Homo sapiens: one gene and its partners. The protein of the gene in region 2 purifies or fractionates together with the protein of the main gene of each other region. This does not show direct contact. Each region holds a gene or a part of one and is shown on either strand. Other genes may lie near its edges.

The links.
Region 1: the proteins of KLHL9 (region 2) and NUDCD3 purify together in Homo sapiens (co-immunoprecipitation; 3 studies listed by BioGRID and IntAct, with this or other methods). This does not show direct contact.
Region 3: the proteins of KLHL9 (region 2) and USP25 purify together in Homo sapiens (affinity purification with mass spectrometry; 3 studies listed by BioGRID and IntAct, with this or other methods). This does not show direct contact.

What each region holds. Positions count from the first base shown.
Region 1 is NC_000007.14:44,389,659-44,397,682, reverse strand, and holds part of NUDCD3 (nudC domain-containing protein 3), read left to right. Parts: intron 1-5,197; coding exon 5,198-5,386; intron 5,387-8,024.
Region 2 is NC_000009.12:21,331,127-21,340,227, reverse strand, and holds the start of KLHL9 (kelch-like protein 9), read left to right. Parts: upstream 1-4,823; 5' UTR 4,824-5,368; coding exon 5,369-7,222; 3' UTR 7,223-9,101.
Region 3 is NC_000021.9:15,724,375-15,732,981, reverse strand, and holds the start of USP25 (ubiquitin carboxyl-terminal hydrolase 25), read right to left. Parts: upstream 3,001-8,607; 5' UTR 2,589-3,000; coding exon 2,544-2,588; exon of another isoform or gene 2,294-2,543; intron 1,980-2,293; exon of another isoform or gene 1-1,979. UniProt on the Homo sapiens protein: Deubiquitinating enzyme that hydrolyzes ubiquitin moieties conjugated to substrates and thus, functions in various biological processes including inflammation and immune response.

The DNA of each region.
Region 1 (8,024 bases), on a different chromosome or scaffold from region 2:
CTAAACACTTGTATGGGTGTCTTTGTACTTATTCTAGTAACTTTAAGCTTAAAATTCTTTACAAATAAAATGTTAAAAAAAATGAGAAGGCTAATAAGCACATGAGAAGCTTAACGTCATGATTCATTAGGGGAATGCAAGGCAAAACCATGATGAGATGCCCCTAGACACCTCTTAGAAGAGCTGCTAAGAAGGCAGACAGCACCAAGCGCTAAATGAGATGGGGCACCTGGTGCTCTTCTGTGCTACTGGTAGGGGTGCAGCAGAGTGGTCAGTCTGGACAGTAGCTGACATCACGTGACCCAACACACGCATTCCTGGCTACTTACCAAGGAGAATAGAAAGCAGGCAGATCTCTACAGCAGCTCTCTACCTGATTGCAAAACAATGGAAATGCCCACATGTCCACAAACAAGTGTGTGGTCTGCCTGTGCCATGAAGCACAGTGTGGCTGAGCGTCAAGAGTCCCCACACTCAAAGGAGGCAGCAGATACAGGGCTGCACACTGTGTGATTCCACACATGTGACATTCTGGACACGGACATGCTGGATGGCAAAACGAGCATCGGGCTGAGAGGACTGCTGAGAAGGGGAACGGGGCTGCTGGGATGTGGGTTGATTGTAGCAGTAGCTCATGGAGATGTGACCTCAAAAGAGTGATTTTTACTATGTGCATACTATACCTCCACAAACTTGACTTTAAAAAAATAAAATATTCACAGAAAAAAACAAAAACAAATGTAAAACCATCAGACTACTTTATCAGAGGTGTTATTTTTAGATAGAGGTCTTTGAACTCCATCCTAGGAACATTGTACCCATGTCCTCCCAGAACTGCATCTTGCACTGGGTGTCGGAAGACAGCCCTGCAAGACCTGTATGCTCTGTACCATTCAGTGGTTTTTAAGGTTAACTACCAGAAGTCATATCTGAGGCCTCCCAGAAGCATTACTCTAAGGAAAGTAGTTAAATGTGGACAGTGACAGCAGAAACATTTACACATTAAACCAGTTTATAGAACATGAGAATGTTCAGAGCATAAAGAAGCTTGTCAGCTCAATGACTTACGAGGCGTGGGCCATTAAAAAAAAAGGTCTGGAGTTTGGGAAGGAGAAAGGAATGGGGATCTGCAGCTCAGAGTGAGAGATGGAATTCTGTAAAGGAACAGTGTGGAGAGGGACTCCAGGCAAGTCAATAACGATGTTAGAATGCCCTTGTTTAGAATAATTATCATGCTAATAATATTGTTCATATTGTTTTTACTAATATGCTCATCCTTAAAAATAGAAGATATTCTAAGGGTACTAAATAAATAAATAATTAAAATTTTGCAACTGAGACCTTCCTCTTCCAGAGCCTTTACAAGAACCTTTATAGACAACACCTCAGGTCCTGTTTGCTGCCCCAGCATGGAGGGCAGCCCACTTGGTTACAGTGATGACAGATGGAAACTTGACTGGAGCAGGTCTGGAAGGCAGAGGAGGCAGGCCTGTGTGTATATGGTCAGGACAAAGGACCAGTGGTGCTAGCCACACCTGTGGGATGGCTGTAATTAAACACACACACACACACACACACACACACACACACACACAACAGAAGATAACAAGTGTTGGTGAGGGTATGGAGAAACTGGAGCCATTGTATGCCGCTGGTGGGAAGGTAAAGTGGTGCAGCTGCTTTCGAAAATAGTATGGTAGTTCCTCAAAAAGTTAACTGTAGAATTACCATATGACCCAGCACTTCTGGGTAAATATACAGAAGAATTGAAAACAGGGACTCAAACAGATGTATGTACATCAATGTTCATAGCAGCATTATTCACAACAGCCAAAAAGTGGGGGCACCTGAAATGTCCATCAGTTGATGAAACAAAATGTGGTTTATCCATACAGTGGAATATTATTCAACCTTAAAAAGGAATGGAGTTCTGATTCATGCTACAACATAGATGAACATTGAGGAGGACATTATGCCAAGTGAAATAAGCCAGACAAAAACAAACAGATAACTGTATTATTCCATTTGTGTGAAATGTCCAGAACCGGCAAATCTGTAGAGGCAGAATCATTAGTAGTTGCCAGTGGCTTGGTGGGGTTGAGGGAACAATTTAGAGGAAGGGTTAGAGCAAATGGGGAGTGACTGATAATTGGCACAGGGCTTCTTTGTGAGGTAATGAAAGTGTTTTGAAACTAGATAAAGGTGATGGTTGTGCACCATTGTGGATATACTACATGCCATTGGTTCACTTTTGAATGGTAAGTTTTGTGTTAAGTGGATTTTGCCTCCATTAGAAATTGTTCAATATAAAGTCGGCTCACATCTCCTCATAAAATACCACACTGATGCACATGCGTGACGTCTGTGAGTGAGGATGGCCCCCTTGGAGAGCTGCACTGCCCAGCACAGTAGCTGCTAGCCACATGTGGCAGCTGAGTAAACACTTGACAGGTGGCTCACGTGACTGGAGAACTGAATTATTTTATTTTAATTAACTTAAATTTAAAACCTACTTGATTTAGTTACTGGAAAACCTTGAATATTTTTGAAACAACTTGGGCATGTGAATATACCCTTTCAATTGTAAATATTATGAAATCTGAACACAGATGAAGTATTTCTGATGAAAAAGTGCAGTGCTCATCTTAATTTTTGTTGGGTTCAAGTGTACTTCTGTGTCCAAAGTACACTTGTGGACACAGAAGATTTGGGGATGTTCCCCTCCTTCCTGTTGGGCAGGTGGCTCATTGTCTTCAGGTCCATCTCCCACTGTGCCCAGGAGCCCTCCACTCTGGGTGTGTGTTTGGACCTGGCCAGTGAAACCCTGTGTTGGGGTCTGTGGAGTGCCAAAAGGCCTGAGAGCACCAGCACCGTCCCCTGGATGGTATGTAGGCCGACCCCCTGCCCACATGGTGCTGATGGTGGGCTGTCAGCCCCAGTGTAGCTCTGCTTTGCCTCTTCATGCTGGGCAATCTGGAAAAGGCCCTTACTTCCAAGGGTTTGTCCTCATTTTTAAATACAAAAAATGGTATGTATGGTAAATGGTAATGGTATGTGTTTTACAGGACTTGTGAACGCTAATAAAATAAGTTACATGGATCACAGTAATAACTACTGGTGAAGATAAAAAATTCGTAAAGGATCTCTTCTTTCCAGAGATTTACAGTTCTGTGAGTTCCTCTGAAGTCTTCCCTGGAATAGAGAAAACAATGCATTTCCCTCTTGGAAGGTTTTCATTGCATCAGCTTGGTAAAGACGAGGTAGAGTTTGTAGTGTTGGGGTCTCTGAGGGTGAGTCAGGTCCCCGTCACACAAACTGTAAAGTCAACGACAAACCAGCTTAGCAGAGTATCTGGAAATGGAAGATTCATCCCAAATTTAAATTGCACACTGGCAGAGCAGCGTCATTTACTGGGTAGAGCTGGCGTGTAGGGGAGCCACCCACTCCCCCTGTTCACCACTCCCCCTATCTGCATTCGGAATGTCAGACAAGATTTCTGGGATGCTGGCTTCAGATCATGATTGCAGGTTTTTGTCTTGCTCTTCCCAGTTCTGGAAAATCTCCACTGTGTGCTCTCCCGCACCACATCGGTGCCCACCCTCTTCATTAGTAGAACACATTCTCGGACTTGATCCCTGGGCTCTGCAGAGTCTGGTGCTGAGTACCTTCTTTGGTGTGGGTAGGTTTTGGCAGCAGGAGCTTGGAGGTGGGAAGGTGGAAGGTGCAGTGTTAGGACACTGCTCTCTCAAGCCCGTGTATACTGGTGAGTCTCCAGTGCTCCCTCTTGGGGGGACGTGGTGTCCTGTGGACTCACTGTGACCTCTTGAGTGTCACAGTTACCCTGAGTGTGGCTTGGTAGGTTTTGCCCACCTGGTCAGTAAGTGTCCTGGTGGCTGCCACCTCCATGGATGAGAGCTGCTCTCACTTGCGGGCCCTTTGCTACCTTTTCTCCCTTTCTGTGAGCACCTAGTGGTTTAATCCCATCAGAGAGTCCCATCACACTTGGGCATGTGAATGTACCTCTTTCAATTGTAAATATTATGAAATCTAAACACAGATCAAGTATTTCTGTTGAAAAAGTGCAGTGCTCATCTAGGGCAAAGTAGACAAACCCACTCTGTTGCTTCTTGGCCACTCTGGTAAGAATTTTGAGCCCAGCCACTGACCACAGCAGATGCAGCCAGTTTTCTTGTTTTCTGTGTCTGTATGACCACTGATAACAGGGCATGGTGTGGCCAGGGCCCTCCTCTGTGTCCCTGGGACAGGCCAAGCAGCCAGGGTCACCTAGGTACATACAGCACCCCTCACGTTTGCTCTCATACTGCAGTTCCAGTTGTCTTTTAAGTTTTTATGGTAATGACATGAGTCTCACAGACCCCAACACTGAGGGCTGGATCTTAAATGCTGGGTGCTGCTTCCTTTGACCAAGGGATGTCTGTGCCATCCCCACAGAGGTGCCCAAGGAGGCCTCTTTTGGGGTTGTTTCTTGATGGTCGTTTCTCCTTCCCAAGCCATCAGAGAACTTTAGGGAATGGGGCTGGAGGACCCCCTCATGCAGCAAGCTTGGCCCCAGTGAGGAAGAAGTGGGGACAGGGCATGGTGCCCTGTCATGGGGTGAGGACTCCCCAGGAGATTCTGTCATGCATTAGGCTGAGCCCTAAGTCTCATAGGTCCCAGCTTACCCCTAAGATAGCAGAATGTTGGATGTTGCTCTTGGAAGCAAGAGAGATCACTGGAGAGGTAGTTGGTTGATAAGAGCTAAGCAGAGCCTTCCATGGCAAGCATGGGGGCAGGCTGGGTTGGCCCAGGACAGGTCCTGGTGTGGGGGGGTGTCATGGGTCTTGGAAAATAGCCTTTCTTCATGAGAGTGGGCAAGGTGTGCACATGGAACAGGCACTGTCCTGAGTATCCAGGACCTGCTGAAGAAGGATAAAGGCATCTTCCAGAATGTCAGTCCCCTCAGGTATGTGCCTCCTAGCTCTTCCCTGGGATATGTTAGCACAGGCAGCAAATGCATTCCCAGGCACAGAGGGTCCTGCCTTGGGTTCTGGCACCCCCTCTTGTCTGTCACCTCCCTTTGTGTAGTTGGTCCTGAGCTTATCCTGGACACCCATCCCTCAGTGGGCTCTGCTCTGTCCCCAGCCCTGGACACCTGTCTCAGGTCTCTGACTCAGGTCTCTGTCCTGCTTGTCCCCAGGTGAACCTGAGCAAGGTGGGCGAGTATTGGTGGAACGCCATCCTGGAGGGAGAAGAGCCCATCGACATTGACAAGATCAACAAGGAGCGCTCCATGGCCACCGTGGATGAGGAGGAACAGGCGGTGTTGGACAGGCTTACCTTTGACTACCACCAGAAGCTGCAGGGCAAGCCACAGAGCCATGAGCTGGTACGAGCATGGCAGTCCTGGAGAGTCCACCCTTTAGGCCCTTGTGCTGGTGACAAGGCCGATAGTGGCAGAGGGGTTGGTGATGACGGTGGGGAAGAAGGTTGTGTGGACCAGCTTCCTGCCATGTCCTAGCCTAGCAAGGAACCTGTCTTACCTGCTCTTGTCCCCAATCACTGCCTCACAGGTGCACTCTGGTCTTTCAGCTGTGTTCTCATACCTGGGCTGAGAGCCCAGTTAACAGGACCTCGAAGGGTGTCATGAGATCTGCCCTTCCTGCACCAGAGCCTGGTAACATCAAGTGTGTTGATGGCTTTTGTTTGTGCCTCATCTGCACATATCTTCCCATGAAGAGTCGCTTGGTGGGACCTTTGGTAGAGGAGGGGAGGGAGCCAGATTGCAGAGCCAGTTTCTGGATGTTGGAGGCCAGCATGTGAAGACTCTGTGATGTCAGCAGTGGGTTAGGGAGGAGGAAGAGAAAGGTTCCTGTCTGACCAGTGTAGTGCCCAGTGTAGAGTTTGCTCATGGCCAAAGAGAATGATTAATTAGATGTATACATTCTTTCTTCCTATTTTAATAACTCCAAGAGTAGCTATTTAGGGAAAAAAGGGTTGCTTTCCTCAGATTATTTTTAACTTCCCGTGTCCCATATACCCAGCACGTGGGTTTGGGCCGCAGTACAGCAGGGCACGCGGACGCAGTGCAGCCTTGAGTCAGTGGGGAGGGGTCATCTGCTGGGCACAGTCTCCTTATTTTTGTTCTGTAAACACGGACCGCCTCCTCCCCCTGAAGATCGCTGATCGATATTTTCTTCTCATTTTGTCTCTTGGAGGAACCTTACCTTGTGGTGTATCTGGATTGTCTTAGTCTTACCTTCCGGTACAGCACGTATTAATACATCGTAGGTGGTTCTGCAAGCCCTGTTGCTGTGTCTCGTCCGTTCTTGCCTATTTTCACAGACAGGTGCATCCTGCTCTTATGAGGTGAAGGAGCCTGCGGAGAGGAGTGTCAACATGTTCTCCTCACCTGGCCCTGCCACACCAGGGGCATGTCCTGAGCACTTAGTACACACAGTTAAGGTGGGGTTGACTGGCTGCACAGTACCCCTGAAAATACAGTTTGTTTGTTTTTTGTTTTTGTTTTTGTTTTTTTCCCCCCACAATAGAGAGATTGAATTTCTGAGGTTGTGACTCAGTAGCTTAGGCAGCAGGGATGGGGTTTGACCTCTGATTTGATTTCACACCTGTCTGTCCTCACAGCCCTGTCCACCCTGGCCCTTGTCTCTATGGAAGAGAATGTTCCTCTAGGTTTGGCCCCCTTTTCCACCCGGGGCATGGCAAGCTTAAAGGACATCTTTGCTTGGCCTACGTCCATGCAGAGTTTGAAGCCTCAGGTAGTATTGCAGCACCTGCTCAGCTGAGCTCAGCTCAGGTGCTTAGACAGCCAGACCTGCCTGGTTATGGCTCATTCCAGTTATGCTGCATTTGCCTGTGGCCACTAGATGAAAGGCCAGCCTTTGAACCTTTGCCCTGTGGGTAGGGCTTCTCATGGTAGTGTTTGGGGATGGTGTATGTGAGGGTCTGCCCACTCTGTGCCCATATTCAGCATTGGGTCCACAAAAGGACTGAGATGTATTCATGAGTTGACCTTCGGGAGAAAGAGTCTGTTTTGACTGGAGAACATGAACCCAGATGCCTTTTGTTCCAGAAAGATAAGAAGGCAGTCTTACCATGTACCCCTTAGAAGTGTCTTTTTGTGCCACAGGATGGAGGGACTAAGGTCAGGTGGTTTCTCACATCTTCCCCAGACACTGACACTGAGCCTTTGTTACAGAGAGATGATAAAAATTATTGTAGTTTGAATGGTATTTGTGCGTTTGTCAAAGCCTTGATGAAGTTTTTGTAGACTTTATTTTATTTTATTTTTTAAATTTTTTGAGACAGAGCCTCGCTCTGTCACCCAGGCTGGAATGCAGTGGTGTGATCTCAGCTCACTGATACCTCCGCCTCCCAGGTTCAAGCGGTTCTCCTGCCTCAGCCTCCTGAGTAGCTGGGACTACAGGCGCACACCACCACGCCCAGCTAATTTTGTATTTTTAGTAGAGACGGGATTTCACCATGTTGGCCAGGCTGGTCTCGAACTCCTGACCTCAGATGATCCACCTGCTTTAGCCTCCCAAAGTGCTGGTATTACAGACGTGAGCCACCACGCCTGGCCAGTTTTCTGTAGACTTTAGCTGTTGAGGCATGAGAGAAGCTAGGATGCTCTGGCTGTTTTTATCTGTGAGCCCTCATGTTTCCTGTGATTGTATCTCTTACAGAACTTTATATTCAAAAACAAAATAGCAGGAATACCTGCTCATCATTGGAGTTGCCAGTAGTGCCAAAGACACGCATGGAGGTGTCAGGGGCTCCACCAGCCTTTTCTTCTCTACATCCTTGCCCCTCCCCTTCCCTCCTTTCTTTCTGTTTCCCTTTTCTTTCCCTTACATCCTCCCCTCTCCTTGACCTTCCTCTCAGTCTCTTTCCCCCATCCTTTATGTTCTGTGCCAACACCTTGTAACATTGCATAGTCTCACCCCTCTATTGGGGCACGTCGGTGAGGAAGACAGACACAGATCTGCCTTTGTGGTGCTAGGATT
Region 2 (9,101 bases):
TAAGAAGTCCTATTCAGGCCCGTCTCTTTACTGAAGATTTATGTGTTACTCAACCCCTCAGAATCCTTGGGGTACCTGAGTTCTTCACTGCACTTATGCAGGTGATAGGAGGTCTGTCTGTGACCCAGACAGATGCCACAGGCAGGTAAGACAATAATTGAGGAAATGAGTGAAGCACAGTGAGTAGGGCAGACGCTGTGAGTTTGGGTCTCCAACAGGGTAACTTGTGAAGAAGAGAAAGAAAGAAGAACCTACCCGATCCTGATAGCCCCCAACCTTGGGGAAACATGATATCCACTGAGTGCATGAAGTTTTCCATCAGCACACCTAGACTCAAATCCTAACTCTGCCAATCACTTGTGCACTCTACGTGGATCACCTTTTCTCTCAGCGTCCTGCTTTCTTCATTGATAAAGTAAGCTTGATAGTATTACTATTTACACTGTAACTGGTGGATTAAAACATGTAACATATTATTTATTTTATAGATGGCACATAATAATAGATTTTTTCTTTCCCTGTTCTTTCTTAACACTGATGAAAGAAATCAAAAACAATGTTTTCTTTTAATGCCTTCTTAGTATTGAGTGCTCTTGTCAATTCTGCATTCATGACAAACAACAAAGTCTAACTTAGATACATTAAACACAGAGAAAAGAACACTGTACATACAGGTAGAACCAGCTATGAATCCTATCTCTGCCCCTCACCATTCACTAAATGGATGTCTTCAAGACATCTCTTATCAATACTGATCCGCAGATCACTCCTCATATCATCTCTGCTAAGAGAGAAATTTATAAAATGTTACCAAAGTATGAGTGGGTTTCATGACTAGGCAGTAGAGAATAGGAAACCAGTGAATCAATAAACTCACAACGTGGTGGTTTGCAGACATTCTCTGCATGGCAGCTAAATACACTTCCCTAGAAGCATCCCCATCTGGTCAGAGATGGCCTTTACTACGATGGCCATCCTTGTCCAGCCTTACTTAGGTTTCAGTATTTTTGCACAATTAGCATCCCTGGTGTACGAAGAATGTGATAAATGAGCTCTCTGAGCAGTCATCTACACTCTCTCTGAAGAGTATTTGGATTTTATTTATCCACATTAATAAAGAGAGCCCATTTGTTTGAAAGAAAGAAGTAGGATTTCAAACGCATTTTCCATAAGTTTTAGATGTTCTCAATTGTCTGGCAATAGGAGAAATGTAAAGGAAAATAACAGTTATATGTAAACAAAATCGAGAAAGTTGCATCATAGGGAATATAGCTAACATCTACATAAAGGGTTTATATATACTTTTAAGAGGGGCGTATAAAAGCATAATTCATAAGAACAATAAAAACTACAATTAATGCCATAAAATGAAATCTAAATAGAATTAAGAACAGCAAGTGAAGCAAATGGAAAGGCATTATAGCCCACTAGTACTCAAAAACTATTAAACAATTATTCTTGAAATTTTAGATTATTAAATAAGCAGTAAGACAATATAGCCTATGAAATAAAGTATTAATTTTATATGCTTTGTGCCATTATATCCATTCCCTGAAATCAATCCTAAATAAAAGTTTGTAAAAAGGTTACAAAATTATATCCGATAATACAAACACACATTTTTCTCCAGGTACTACCTTCTTGCTCTTCTTCCACTCACAGATAAACTTCTAAAAGAAGTTTCCATCCACTGTGTCTCCAACCTCTCCTGCTATTTACTCTAGTCAATATATTCCAATCTGGATTTTGCCAAATTAATTCTGGCAAACCAGTCCTTTCTTTTCCTAAATGTAAAACGTCATGTTTTAAACACATTTCTTCCCTTAAACACCCTCTTATCACAATTTTCTCCTGGTTGTCCTCCTATTTTGCTCCTGGATGTCCTCCTATCATTTCATTCACATGCCCTTTTCAGGTTCCTCACTCTGTTCACTACATTAAGATGTAAAGGTCCTCAAGATCCAGGTTTTGGTCTTCTGATTCACTACTCAATTTCTACCAGACCTCATCCATCCTTGGGCCTTCAGGAAAAAGGTATAGCCCAGCTCCCAAATGAACATCTCTAGCCATGCACTCTAAATCCCAGAACTGTGTATCCAATTTTCAAGGCTTAAAGTCTTCCAGTTTCTGATGACAAAAACCACTTTTCTTTTGCCTATGGTTTGAGTTTATGATAGAGTTGAAATTAATTAATTGGTTAATAGTTTTATTTCTCCCTCAGCAAAAAGTTTCAAGAGGGCTGAAGCTGTGTTTCCTTTATTCACTTTTCTATCCTGAAAAGTCACATATCAAGTGTTTCATACAGTGTGAATGGAATGAATGAACTGAACTTCACTTGAGGTTGCAAAACCAACCTTGGCATTGATTTATTGAGTAAGGCCAGGTATGGTGGCTCATGCCAGTAATCCCAGCAGTGTGGGAGGCTGAGGTGGGAGGATTGTTGAGGCTAGGAGTTTGAGGCTGTAGTGAGCTATGAACCTGCCACTGCACTCCAGCTTAGTGACAGAGCAAGACCTTGTGTTTGTTTTTTTTAAATAAACAAATGCAAAATGATCTGAAAGTAAAACTCGAAATAATAAAGAGAATAATTTTCAAAATATAAAGTGAGGGGCCAGGCATGGTGGCTCACGCCTGTAATCCCAGCACTTTGGGAGGCTGAGGCAGGCGGATCACAAGGTCAGGAGTTTGAGAGCAGACTGGCCAGCATGGTGAAACTCTATCTCTACTAAAAATACAAAAAATTAGCTGGGCATGGTGGCGCGCACCTGTAGTCCCAGCTACTCGGGACGCTAAGGCAGGAGAATTGCTTGACCCTGGGAGGCGGAGGTTGCAGTGAGCCGAGATCGCACCACTGTACTCCAGCCTGGGTGACAGAGCGAGACTCCGTCAAAACAAAACAAAACAAAACAAACAAACAAAATATACATAAAGTGAACACTTTTTAATGTAATTAGCACAGTGTTAAAAGTGAACATTTCATACAAGCAAAAATACTGAATACAATAAATGTAGTAGAATCAATAATTAAGTACATGGGTAAATTAATAATATCATCCATGGTGAGCTAATGCCCCTAAGAACTGGATGCTTTATCATACAGTTGCTTGACATTACCAACAAGTATTGTGACAAATTTGATTCAATCATTTCATTATGCAGGCAGAAAAGATAGTCTTTTAAAATAACTAAACATATGGGAATATAATGAAGAGTGTCTATAGTAATCATTTCATGAAGACACAAGTCTGTTCCTAAGCTATTAATCTTACTTGCAAGTTTGATGAAAAAAAGAAGGATCTCATGATTTCTTGCTCCAACTTCCCATGTACAGAGGCTCTCTTCTTTCTTTTCCAGATAGAGACTGATTCCTTGGAAGTAGCTCTTCACAGCATTAGGGAGTTGTCATGGCCTGAGAGAGCCCTTCCACCCCTAACTCATTCAACAAGCAGGGCTCCAGGACTTCCCAATGCTGATAAAAATTCAGTGAATAATTTCTCCAGGCCAGTTTCATTCCAACCAACCTCTTGTGTTGAATAAGGTGACAATCTGCTGGAGCACCTTGTGGAGGACAGTGGTAGTCTAAGCCTTCTGAATTTTGCTGCCATCCCTTGGAAACAATAGAAAACATTCAAAACAGATGAACTGCCCATCAACAGGGCACTGGTTAAATAACTTATGATGTAACAACTCAGAAGGCAACAACAGAATTGTTTAAAAATATAAATAAGCCCTCTACACTAATTCAGGAAGATCTTGAAGTGAAAAAAAAAGATGCAGAACAGTGTACATGGTATGCTATCTTTTACATAAAAACGAGGCGAGTGTAAGAAAAACATGACTACATTCTTACTTTGCATATGCATAAAGAACTAGAAGGATTTAAAAGACAGAAACTTCAAAATTTGGAAAATGGAAGAAATTGTGTCAAAGTATACATTTATTTGTATGTCAAAATTTAAATTTACCACTAATTAAAGAAATGCAAGTTAATAAAATACTCACAAAGGGAAAAGTCAGAAGAAGGGAAAGACACAAACATTGTTGGTGATAATATTTTGGAAATATTGTCTTGGATCAGTATTTTACTAAATATTATCCATAACAGGGCTAAAATTTTGCTACCAGATTGTATAAGTTTACTACCGAGTCTATAAAACAATGGAGGATAAGAAGGTACACATTCAGGAACAAACCAATGGGCAAAGGAAACTATAGTATGTATAGTTATTGGAAAATTATGTAGCCATTTTTAAAATTGTGGAAAACAAAGGCATTTCAAGCCAAAAATTTAGAATATATCATTTACATAATAAAGTAACAATCTAGTAAAGACAAATATTTTGCGTTTGAAATTGTAACAAATTTGAAAATATGAACCAAAATTGTAACTGAAGTATCTACTACATAATGTGGGATAACAATTATTGTTTTGTAGAGGAAAAAAAAAATTAAGCATCCAGGTTTCCTCTCAATTTATACAAATGCCGCATTTCACTGTTATTCAAAAAAACAGAAGCTAGGAAGCGTAAAGCTTTGAAAAATTATGCATTTGGGGAACGTAAGAGCTCAGATATGCGAAAAACTTATATCAAACGTGCAGCATAACACACTTGCTTGCACACATTCTGTCCTATTTGGTCCCACATACAAGGCAGCTCTAAGAGGCCGGGCTGGCGCCCACCCCACACAGCTCCGCTTCCCCAACCCTCGCCCTCCCGCCTCCCGGGTACTTCCTCCCCCTTCCCCACCCCCACCCTCCCGCTGACTGACGAGGTCTGGAGGCCGCGCAGCCGCAGTAGCCGCTAAGGCCGCTCCCACCCCGTGGTATCCTGGGACTAGGCTTTTCCGGAAGGAGCGGCTCGGTGTTGGGGCTAGGCCGGTATTCTAGGCCCAAGCCCAGGCCCAGGCCTGTGTTCCCGGCCCTTGCTCAAAGACAGGCCGGTGGCCGCTGCGACACTCTAGGTACAGCGGAGGGCGCAGCGGGCCGTTCGCTGAGGTGTCCGGACCCGCCGCCGAGCGGGCCGTGGAGCCACAGTACGTGGCGGCGCCTCTTCCTTGCCCGAAGCGGAACTGCTGAAGGAGCGGCAGCGCAGGCCGGACGAGGTGAACCAGGTCATTTAACCGCCTTCAGGTGATGAATCATCTGTCTAATAATCAGATTTGAGGTCCACAGCCCTTTGTGGTCCTGCTACAGGGTGATTTTCAGTGGATGACTGACTGGCGTGGCCCGAGGGGTGCCGCAGTGACTGCCTTCCCTTGATAAGGAAACGAGCTTTCTGTTCTTTCTGGACACCTCGTTACCTGTAAAACATTCCGGTTATAACTTCTTTATCCGGCTTGCATCTCTGTGCAAGAGGAAAGCTTTCACATGAAAGTGTCCCTTGGTAACGGCGAAATGGGCGTCTCTGCCCATTTGCAGCCTTGTAAGGCAGGAACCACACGCTTTTTTACCAGCAATACTCACAGTTCGGTGGTATTGCAAGGCTTTGATCAGCTTAGAATAGAAGGATTGCTTTGTGATGTGACCCTGGTACCAGGTGATGGAGATGAAATCTTCCCTGTTCACAGAGCTATGATGGCGTCTGCTAGTGATTATTTCAAAGCCATGTTCACAGGTGGAATGAAAGAACAAGATTTGATGTGCATTAAGCTTCATGGGGTGAACAAGGTTGGTCTGAAGAAAATCATTGATTTTATTTATACTGCAAAACTTTCTCTTAATATGGACAATCTTCAGGACACACTTGAAGCTGCTAGCTTTTTACAAATATTACCCGTTTTGGATTTCTGTAAAGTATTTCTTATATCAGGAGTCTCTTTGGATAACTGTGTTGAGGTTGGACGAATTGCTAACACCTACAATCTTATAGAAGTGGATAAATATGTTAATAATTTCATCCTGAAGAACTTTCCTGCTTTATTGAGTACTGGGGAGTTTCTAAAACTCCCTTTTGAACGACTTGCATTTGTGCTTTCCAGTAATAGTCTTAAGCACTGTACCGAACTTGAACTCTTTAAGGCAGCCTGTCGCTGGCTAAGGTTGGAAGACCCTCGGATGGATTATGCTGCAAAGTTAATGAAGAATATTCGATTTCCACTGATGACACCACAGGATCTCATCAATTACGTGCAGACAGTAGATTTCATGAGAACAGACAATACCTGCGTGAATTTGCTTTTGGAAGCTAGCAATTACCAAATGATGCCATATATGCAGCCAGTGATGCAGTCAGATAGAACTGCCATTCGATCTGACTCCACTCACTTGGTTACATTAGGAGGAGTTTTGAGGCAGCAGCTGGTTGTCAGTAAAGAATTACGGATGTATGATGAAAGGGCACAAGAATGGAGATCTTTAGCCCCAATGGATGCTCCCCGTTACCAGCATGGTATTGCTGTCATTGGAAACTTTCTTTATGTAGTTGGTGGTCAGAGTAATTATGATACAAAAGGAAAAACTGCTGTTGATACAGTTTTCAGATTTGATCCTCGGTATAATAAATGGATGCAGGTTGCATCATTAAATGAAAAGCGCACATTCTTTCACTTGAGTGCCCTCAAAGGACATTTGTATGCAGTTGGTGGGCGCAGTGCAGCTGGTGAACTGGCCACAGTAGAATGTTACAACCCAAGAATGAATGAGTGGAGCTATGTTGCAAAAATGAGTGAACCCCACTATGGTCATGCTGGAACAGTATATGGAGGCTTAATGTATATTTCAGGAGGAATTACCCATGACACTTTCCAAAATGAGCTCATGTGTTTTGACCCAGATACAGATAAATGGATGCAAAAGGCTCCAATGACTACAGTCAGAGGTCTGCATTGCATGTGTACAGTTGGAGATAAGCTCTATGTCATTGGTGGCAATCACTTCAGAGGAACAAGTGATTATGATGATGTTCTAAGCTGTGAATACTATTCACCAACCCTTGACCAGTGGACCCCAATTGCCGCCATGTTAAGAGGCCAAAGTGATGTTGGAGTTGCCGTCTTTGAAAATAAAATCTATGTTGTTGGTGGATATTCTTGGAATAATCGTTGTATGGTAGAAATTGTCCAGAAATATGACCCAGAAAAAGATGAGTGGCATAAAGTTTTTGATCTTCCAGAGTCACTTGGTGGCATTCGAGCCTGTACACTCACAGTTTTTCCACCTGAAGAAAACCCTGGGTCACCTTCTAGAGAATCACCTCTTTCAGCACCTTCAGATCATTCTTAGGTCTAAGGTGTAACACCTTTGCAGTACGTCATGGGTGATCTAATACTTCCCCTTCAGTTGTATCTTCTTACAGTGATTGGTACAGTTATTAGATATAAAGGTAACTGATGTTATTCGTCTTGTATGGCTTTTAGTATGTTTATCAAGTGGCTAACAAATGCATTCTGAAAATGTATTTAACATAGCTGTTTTAACAAATGAAAAAAAGACGTAGAAAAATGTTTAGATGTCTTTTTGTGATGTTATATAAAATTGTAGATGACTGTGGTAAATGTGTAATTATGTCCATTATGCTTCAAAGTTGAGTTTTCATCTTTGACTCCAAAATGTCAGAGGGAGGCCGCTCTAAACTAAAAATAACGAAAGGTTGCCAAGTATTAATACTAGTTACCTCCCTCTTTTCGTAGTTTTTGTCATGTCTGTCAACTTACTCGATTGTGTGGTTGCATTCAGAATATTTGAAGTTTCTTACGTAGACAGAAATAATAAAAATATTAACTAGGAAAAAACAGTATAGCACCAAGCCAGTATTTGGTATCTCTCTCTAGAGCGAGCAAGAGAGGGAGAGAGGAGGAAAAAATACACATAATACAAACATACATGCATGCACACATACATACATATGTATACACACACATAATTTGAAAACTGATTGGCACTTCAACGATGCTGAAATTGTTTTTAAATTGAAGTTTCTTTCTTCCACAAAGCAGCCGTTTCTATTCAAATGGAAATTCAGTACCAGAGAATAAATGTCTATGTAGTCATACTGAATTTAGATAGATAAGGGCTACAGCATACTAAATCGACAACCAAATTTGTCATGTGACTAAACCGTTACTTCAGATGAAGCTTACATTACTGTTTTCTGCTTGTGTATTTTCTGTAGAGTACTTTTACACAGATTGGTAAAGTTCAGGTTTCAGAGAACTGCTTTTGTGCAGAAAATTTAGGTTCTTTTTTCCACCTTTTTGGTCAGTAAAACTTAATGAAAAAAGCAAAGAAAAAAATATTCTGAACAAAGCTATAGGGTTTTAAGTTCAGCCTCCCAACTTAGTCATCCTAACATGATTATTTTGTGATTTGGGGTGCTTGCCCTGGTGCTGTTCCAGTCCATGTGCATCCTGAGCTGTGTGATCTGCCTCGAGGCTATGATCTGAGCAAGCAGGAGATAACATTTTCTTCTGCATCAAGTGAGGAAAAATGTGCTTTTGGCCATGTCTCAAAGACAGGACCAACTTCAGATTCCCAAAGAAGCCAGCTACAGAGCCTCTGGAACACTATGGTCTTACAAGCAGTACTAAAATCAACCCTCAGCCTCTTCAATGCCAAAGGTATCCCTATTGGTTGAGAACCACATGGTAATTTTTAATGGGACTTTTATCAGCAAATGGAGTTACAGGAATTCTCTGTAATGAGTGATTCTGAAGAGGTACTTTCCTGGAATAATTGTCTACCTGAAGAAAAAAAATTTATATATACATTGTGTGTGTGTGTAATACACACACACAACCCCCTATACCTGGAAGATTGTCAGCATGTAAATCAGGAACAACTTTCTCCTTATTGACAATCCCATAATAAAACTCAGGAACCAAGGCAAAATGAATTGGCTTCTAGGGGTCTGAACCTTACTGCCCATACAAGTGTTGATTCATTTTAATGCTGTTTATGATTTCTGCATTGGCAGAAATTTTCATACTTTCTATGTTTTTTTAATTACTCAGTTTTTTATTACTAAAAATAGCACATTTGAGTACATTTGAAAAGTAGAAAAATTAGAAATTATTAACTTTATTGAATAAGCAAGAAGTGCATCCTAATCCTTTGATTATTAATGAGGTTGAATATTTGTGTGCTATCGGTAGCTGTGTTTCTT
Region 3 (8,607 bases), on a different chromosome or scaffold from region 2:
CTGCACCTCACCTGAAATACCTAAACCTCAGAAAAGCAGCTTTCTGCAGTTTTACTACATCTCATAAGTCCCTGGGTTGGCCAAACTCCAGCAATCAAGCAAAGAACACATCAAAAGGGAAAGGCAGCCTCTTGCCTCATCATACTACATTGTGACAAAGACTAATGAATTCTATAGGCGAACCAAAAAATCATGAAAGTTTTGTGTAGTGTGGTGCTGCAAACAACAAAAAAACTTACATCCATCTGCAAAATAAAAGTTTTAAAAATCTTGAAAATAATATAGCTAAATAGTAAATACTTAAATTTTAAATAGTAAATACTTAAAATTTAAAAACACATATGTACACACAGTTTTTTAAGGTGAGAAGAAAACTGGCTAAAATGTTGGCTATGCAATATACACTACACACCTCTCCTTTTAGATAACCCATAAAGTGTCTGAGTAAAAACAGACTTTCACTTTTGTTTCTTCTAAGTGTGAAGTTCACTTCCTAGTTACCAGCTTTAAGTCCGCTTCCTGGTTACTAGCTTGACGGATTTAAATCTGTCAACTTATCGAGGTAGATGGTTTACTTGTATCCATATAAATATTTTTAAATAGTTCTAATATGAGTAACAAAGTAATCGTGTATTAATACGGAAAGCAAACACATTTAAGTGTTTCTTCTGTAAAACAATCTAAATATTATGGAAGTATAAAAGTTTCTCTAAAAAAAATCCCCAATAACAATGAAATGATCTAAAACACAGCCATACTAAAAGTAGCATCATAATGATAATATTTTGAATTAACTACTACTCCCTTTGTGTGTGGAGGGGATTCATTAAAGTAGGAAATTGGACTCGACAGCCAAGATCACTTTCGTTAACTTGATTCTTGATTCTACAATTTTATGCATAACCTCTGAACCATACAATAGAGCCTGCATAGTTATTTAATACAGTTTAGTCAAAATCAAATGAAAATAAAAAAATCCTAAACTTACAAAGTTCTTCCCATTGTTCAAACTTAGGAAGTGAAAAATTGGTATTTCTCACTTTGAAACAGACTTTAATATTCAACACTGAAGACAATTATAAACAAATGGTACCATACATATTAAATATTGCTTAGCGTTCACATGACCATGTGCTCTTTCCTAAGCCTTAAGTCTTTAAAAATTGAACTTGAAGGTATTCAAAATAGAATAGGGAGGATTAGGAAGGAAACTCTTTTAAATTCTCATTATTAAATCTTGAATTATTTCACTGTAAATAAAGTGCAGTGTGCAATATCCTTCTAACTTTACCAATAATATCAACTAACATACAAGTCTCAAAAACAACTTTCCCAACGTGCCTAAAATAACAATGCACTATCCTTGCTTTCCAAACTTGAGTATCTTCGATTACTTTAAAGCAGTATCATAAAATTCTAAAAATAATCTCAAAGCAAAAATTTAGCAGGCTGTATGTAGACAGCCCATTTTAGAACAGGTCTTATTCTAAAGTCAAGCACAGGTAGAATATTGCAATCTACACCAAATCTACAACAGGGTGGGGCATTCATTACTCACCCAGATAAACCAAACATAACTCTGGTGGTTGATCACAGTAAACCCTAACTGTCCCCGTAATACCAACACAACTAAGGCACGGTTTACTCTTTTGCCCAAAATGCTTTTCACGCAAATTAAAAATTAAAAAAAGAAGTTAAATCATGGCCAACTACTCTTCAGAACATGGTGCAAGCCATGATAGTGCACTTAAGATTCTGAAAGCAAAATCTAAAATAGCAGAATGATCTCTATTCACTTTAAAGATATAAAGTTTCACAAACAGTTTTTTAATTGTTTTCTTTAGTGAGTGACCATTTGAATGTGTGACTGATGCAAGAGTAAAGGGTGAACGAAAGAACAAGGTCAAACTTAGGGGACAAAAGATTCCTGGAATAACATGGCCAGAAAGGTTTCCTCTCTTAGGGACAGTTTCTATATTGAAAAAAAAAAAAAAAAAAAAAAAAACAGAAAAGAAGAAGAAGAAAGGGAAACCTTAAAAGGAAAAGAAACCAAGCAAACCACCTACTTCTAGAGTCCACCTGGTCAACACGCCTGCCCCGCGAGGCAGGTAATTCGATTTTGGTGGAGACCGTTTTGCAAAATAGCAGGCCTGGTACACTACTACCTTTGAAAGACAAAATCGGTTCAGAAAGGATGACAACTAGCTATTCTTTCTCATTTAAGGGGAGAGAATAAAGTTTCATTAAGATGCCACACAGAGCACTGTAGGAATGTGAGGGTCGCTCTCAATACCTGGCACCGTCTGCTACGGGAAAACAATCGGCAGAAGGAAGTGGATTGAAGCCCGCAAACTACACTCTGCTTCCCACACGCAGCTGGGCTCTGGGCGCGACGCCCCCGAGGCGATGGGCAGGGGCCGGGGGTGACCGGGGAGGAAGCCCGGGAAGGCGGCGGCGGCGAGGCCGGGGCGCCCGGCCGCAGCGGGAGAGGACAGCCCGTCGGAAGGAGAAGTGGGGCCCGCCGGCTGGCGGACTCGCCTCACCTTCTGCGCCGCGCTCTGCTGCAGCACGTTCTGCTCCACGGTCATGGCCCCCGCGGCGGCGGCGGCGGCGGCGGCGGTGGCGCCCGGCTCCTCGCGCCTCCGCCGGCCCTGGCTGCCGCGCTCCGCCGAGCTCCAGGGAGCGGCGCGGACGGCCTGGGAGGACAGCGCCCCCGCCAGCCAGGCGCGAAGGCGATGGCGGCCGGCGTGCGCGGGCACCGCGGGCAGGCGGCGAAACGCCGACTGTGAGGGCCACGGCGGCCGCCTCACGTCTCCACGCGGCCCGCCTCAGCGCCGCTCGTCCGCGGCGGCCCGGGCCATGAGCGGGCGGAGGACGCCGGGGCACGGGAGAGCGCGAGCCAGTCGGGCGGCGTCACGCGTTCGCACGTTCCTTTGCTGCCGGTCCGCGGGCTGCTTTGGGGAAGGGAGAGAGGGGACGGAGGGAGCGGCCGCCCGGAATGGCGTTGTCCTCCTCCCTCCGCGAGTCCTCCTCCCTCCCCTCCCCCACGCGCCATCCCCGCCCCCGCCCGGCGGCTCCTCCCCCGCAGAGCCCCGCCCGCCGGCCGCCCTAACCCTACATTGTGACCCTCCGGGCGGCGGGGCGGGGCCGCCATGGAGCCCCGCCCCTCCCTGCGCGGGCCTGGCGTTCCCGGGTGGGGCGAGGGCGCGCCTGGCTGCCTGGCCCGGGAGCCGCCCCTGCGGCAGGTTGCGCGACGCTGGCGCTGGGCTTCGGGGAGCGCGACTGGAGGCCGGAGGGCAGCGTTCCTCCCTGCGCCCAGGGCTTGTCGGATCCCTAGCTTACCCAAAGCCTCCAAAGCAAACATTTCCCTCCATGCCCATAACGTCCCAAAACTGCGTAGGGTCCCGAACTCCGGCCCCTTTCTGTGTCACGCGTTCTCTCCCCTCGCCTTTCTAGGAATTTCACAAGCCTTGAACTTGCCTGAAGGGAAAAGTCAAATAAGCAAAGGGTTGCCAGAAATCTTTATGCTGGGAAGTACTTTTCTCCTTAACTAATCATTACGTAAATGAATATAGACATTTTCTATCTACCTTCATTCATTCGAATATGTGTCAGTCACTGCTAGGCTCTGGAAAAATAAAGTTTATCTTCCCAAGACTTAATATAAATGAAATAGGATCTATCTAGCAAACAACCTTACAAAAATATCACTGCCTAATGATACATAATTCTAATATCCCAGTTGCCAAATTAAGCAAACAATTAACTACCATGCATGGAATGCTTGACTATATATGGAATTGTAAGGAAAATCTAACATTAAGAAAGCAATCTCTAGCCACAAAAATATCTCGAGTTCCAGGAGCTAATCTGGGAACGGAGGTGAGAGTGCAGCAGTGTGAGGAGAGAAATTATCAATGCATATTGTCACAAATAGAATACACTTGAAAATCCGGGTATAATTTTTAATCCAATGACAAGGAAAGCAAGCTTGGCAAATGCTAATTGAAATAGTATGTGGTGTTATTTAATAATCATGGATTATAGTAGCTCTTAAGGCTTTGTAACAGTTCTGTGCACTTTACAACCATCTTTGTTCTGCAGCTCAGATGTCTGGTACCACCTGTTGTCACCTTTTCCTTGAAGCTTCATATTTGTTGACTCATTTGATATTTAACAAATTGCAAATCTTATTATATTAATATCCTATGTCTTTTCTAGAGGAAATGAAAAGTCATGAAACGGTTGGAAACAGAAATTTAGAAATACTGTCACATCTCTAATCTCACGTATCGATTTTTTTATAACTCTGAAGCCCAAGGAGGGTGACCTGTCAAAGAGAGCTTATCAAAACCCATTTTTCTTCATTTATAGATCAAAGTTTCTTCTTTTCTTGTTTATATGCTAACTTCATGTTTCTCCATATGAGGGTTTTGGTTTTTTGGTTTGTTTGTTTGTTTTTTAGAAATCAAGCTCATACATTTGAATTCAAGAAAATTAAATTTAACATAAAAATCTAGTAATCTAGTACCATGGGAGGAAAAATGTTGCCAGATACTAAGGTTTAATTTCAAGAATTTGGCAATACAACTTTTCTCTGAGTTAAATTTGTTACTTCCATACAGAAAAAAAAAGATGATCTTACAATAGATAATCATCAAATAGAGCTTTTATATGGTAGACCTATTTGCCCACTGAGACTGTTCATTTTCAGCTTACTTCTGAGGGTTTCCTACTTACTCAGCATTTCTTTAAATATTTTTAACTGTTGTACTGAAGAACATTGAGAAGAAAATTTCAAGTTTCCTCATAGGCATTCCTTTTTAGAAGGCTTACAATTGGGATGAATAATTAGAGAAATTTGAGCAATTGAGATAAATTGGCACACAAAACCCATCGCTGGGATTTCCTAACTCATTTTTTAAATTTGCGCCGTGACAATTGTGTTGTATGAGTCAGCTTTAATATGCATGTGTGTCGGAATTATATATCCTCAAGATATTATTTAATAACTTCTAAACTGCTACATTACTCTATGTTGTTGACATTCAGGTAAAAATGTTAAGTGACATATTTCATATAATATGAAATATTTTGTGTGTAACAATGCTGTGGTTTGAATGTATCCCCCCAAAAACGGTGTGATGGAAACTTAATCCCCAATGCAACAGTGTGGAGGTGGGCCCTAATAAGAGGTGATTCAGTTATGAGAGCTCTGACCTCATGAATTAATTAATGGTGCTATCACAAATGTGCAGTCCCTATCAAAAGGACAGTTTCCTTATAAAAGGACGAGTTTGGCTCCTTCTTGCCTCTTTCCCTTTTCCTTTCCTTCCCTCTCTCTCTTTCTCCCCTTCTCTTAGCTCTTCCACCATGCAATGATACAGGAGGAAGGCCTTCACCAAATGACGGCCCATCCATCTTGACCTTCCCTGCCTCCAGAACTGTGAGCCAACAAATTTCTGATCATTATCAATTACCCATTCATAGGTATTATGTTGTAGCAGCATAAAATAGACAAAGACAAACTGCAAGACTATTTTTCTGTTTTGGGTCAAAACGTTATTTCTAGCAATACTCAGTATTGTATTTTATATGTCAACTAAGAAAATTGGTATTCTTCCGCCTTAGGTATCTTTAGAAAGGGGTTAAAAATCCATTTCCGGATACCAAAAGTTTACCATATTGCCAAAACACATTTGTAGGACTTTTCTTTGTTTCCCCCCTAGCTGGTGTTGAGCTCCTGGTCTCAAGGGATCCTCCTGCCTCAGCCTCTGAAGTAGCTACCTGGATTACAGGCATGTCAGCAAAGAATTGTTGAATCCATGGAGCAGATTTAGACAATTTCCATTACAAAAGAGTGGTTTTAAATCTACTGCAATGAGGATCTGAATTATTTTCCTCCTTTAGGAGTGTTGGCATTCTGGGATAATTTTATTTCCACCAATAAGAAAACAATAAGCAGGCTGGGCACGGTGGCTCCCCTCTGTAATCCCAGCACTTTGGGAGGCCAAGGTGGGCGGATCACCTCAGGTCAGGGGTTCAAGCCCAGCCTGGCCAACATGGCAAAACACTGTCTCCACTAAAAAATACAAAAATTAGCCGGATGTGGTGGCAGGCACCTGTAATCCCAGCTACTCGGAGCCTGAGGCAGGGAGAATTGCTTGAACCTAGGAGTCGGATGTTGCAGTGAGCCGAGATGTGCCATTGCACTCCAGCCAGGGTGACAGAGCAAGACTCCATGTAAAAGAGCAAAAAGAAAACAATAAGCAATCATTTAAAGAGGAGTCTTCTATGATGTCATAATGGTACTATTTAGCAATCAGGTGTTCATAGATTACAACCTGCAAGAGTACTGCCTGCCTAATACATGCACAATAAAATGCTTATTGAATTAAGTGGGCAGCCATGAAGGGGAGAAAACAAATGTATTTGTGCTTTTGTGGTGCACATCTAACTCTAACTTCTCATTCCAAGTGGATAGCTTTGTGGTCCTGGCAGCCCAGCCATATTATTCTATATGACAAAATGTGTCATTATTAGTTTCTCCAGCCCTCAATAGTGCCTCACATTTTGAGGGATTCTAGATGTTGCTTCTTTGGTATTGTATTAGTTGTCTGTTCTGCCATAACAAAATGCCACAGATTGGGTGTCTTAAAAATACAGAAATGTATTTTTTCACAGCTCTGGACACTGGGAATTCAAGATTAAGGTGCCAGCAGGGTTGATTTCTCCTGCACCCTCTCTGTTTGCCTTGCAGATGGCCACCCTCTCACTGCCTCTTTCCATGGTCCGTGTGTGCCCACAGTATCTCTTCATCTTCTGCTGAGGACATAAATCATACTTGATTTCAGCCGCACCCAGATGGCATCATTTTAACTTAATAACCCCTTTAAAGACTTTGTTTTCAAATACAGTTACATTCTGAAGTGCTAGGGGTTAGGACTTTTTAGAGAGGTTATGAATTTTAGAGAGACAAAATTCAGCCCGTAACAGTCATATTCAATCTGCTTTACTTAATCCTATGCTTCATACTTTTGTGCCGTCAAATATATTTTTTCATGCCCCATCCTGTAACTTCGTAGATTGGTAAGAGATGCATTAGCACTTTAAAGGCTAGTACCTGCACACATTTTCTGCCAGTATTGGCACTTCCAATTAGAATCATTTTGGGGGAAACAAGTTTTGTGCATTGAAAAGCAATCTAGTCTAATGTGCTTTGCAAGGTCCACCTAGAAAGTAAGGACTATGGAGAAACAGCTAGAATTTATCAACGGAGAGCCAGTGCAAAAGTGTGTTATTTCTTGCCTGCATCACTTGCTTTCACTTACCTTGAACAGGCCCGAAGTTATACTTGCACACTGAAAATGGCTTGGAGGCCTCAGACCTTTTCTCATCACTTTTTAGTCCATTCACCTATACTCAAAAGACAAAGTCTCTCCCACCATATTGGTGGGCACACATTTCCCTGAAATTATCCTATGATATATATGGGCAGAGAAAACCACATGTCAGAATGTGACTAATGTCACTTTCCAAGACCTATCTCCCATGTTCAGCGCACATGATCCCTGAAGAACAACCCAGGGACTTCTAGCTCTGTGATCGTGGGCAAGTTACTTAAGCCTTAGTTCCTATTTGCTACGAGATTGATTCCTTGAGCGTCTATTGTTCTGCTGTAAATCACAGAGAGGACTATCCCTGCATGTTTCACGCTCGTAAGTCAGATGGGTTTGAAACAGATTTGGCTAACAGGCAAAGGAAAGGTACTGGAGGGCAAGAGAAAGGGTATAGCCAGGCTATTTCTCTTTCTCCTCCCTCTCCTCTGATGGCATCTCTTTGGGCTGTATGTATCTCTTGGATGGTTTCCCATCTCACCAGACTGCCCTTGCCTGATTCTAGGTCTCCCCAGTGAGGTGAGGTAGGTCCCTGAGATTTAGAAGCTGTGCATCCTCACTTCTCTCTCCAAATTAAGGGTAGTAATGCCTTTTTGATGTTGCTAAACTCTGGCTTAACTCACTCCCCTTGTTCGGCTTTTCAGCTCTGCATTGCCTATATAACAAATTCTTTGGATAGATATTCCTTGTTTTAACCACTGTAGGGGTAAAGGGAAACCTTCCCCTTCATCTTTTGAAGGTTGGCTGAAAATCAACTGACAAAAATCAAATTAATTTTAAAAAGGCATACGAATTTGTATCACTACACACAGAGGAAAATCACAGCGATTACTTCCCAACCATATGAGGTCCAGAGAGTTATATACCCTTGCTCTTAGGGAAAAGGGAGTCCAGGAAGTATCGATATTTTTAAGGGGATAGAAAATGATTTTTAGAGGAAGTCAGTGGACTTAGAGCATGTACAATGGCCAGTACAAAGCCTGTTGGGTCCACAGAGAAGACAATGGCTTGGGATATATGTCTGTTCAAGTGTGTTGACAAACTTCAGCCTGTCTTTCTGTGATATGAATTCAGTTCATGAAAACTCAGAAAAGGGTTCATAGGGTTTTTTTTTCTTCTTATGTGGGTCCAGACTTTAGAGAGAGAAGGAAACTTCAGAGAACAACTTCATTCTGTGCTTTGGAAGACACAGAGAATGAGAGATGGGGGA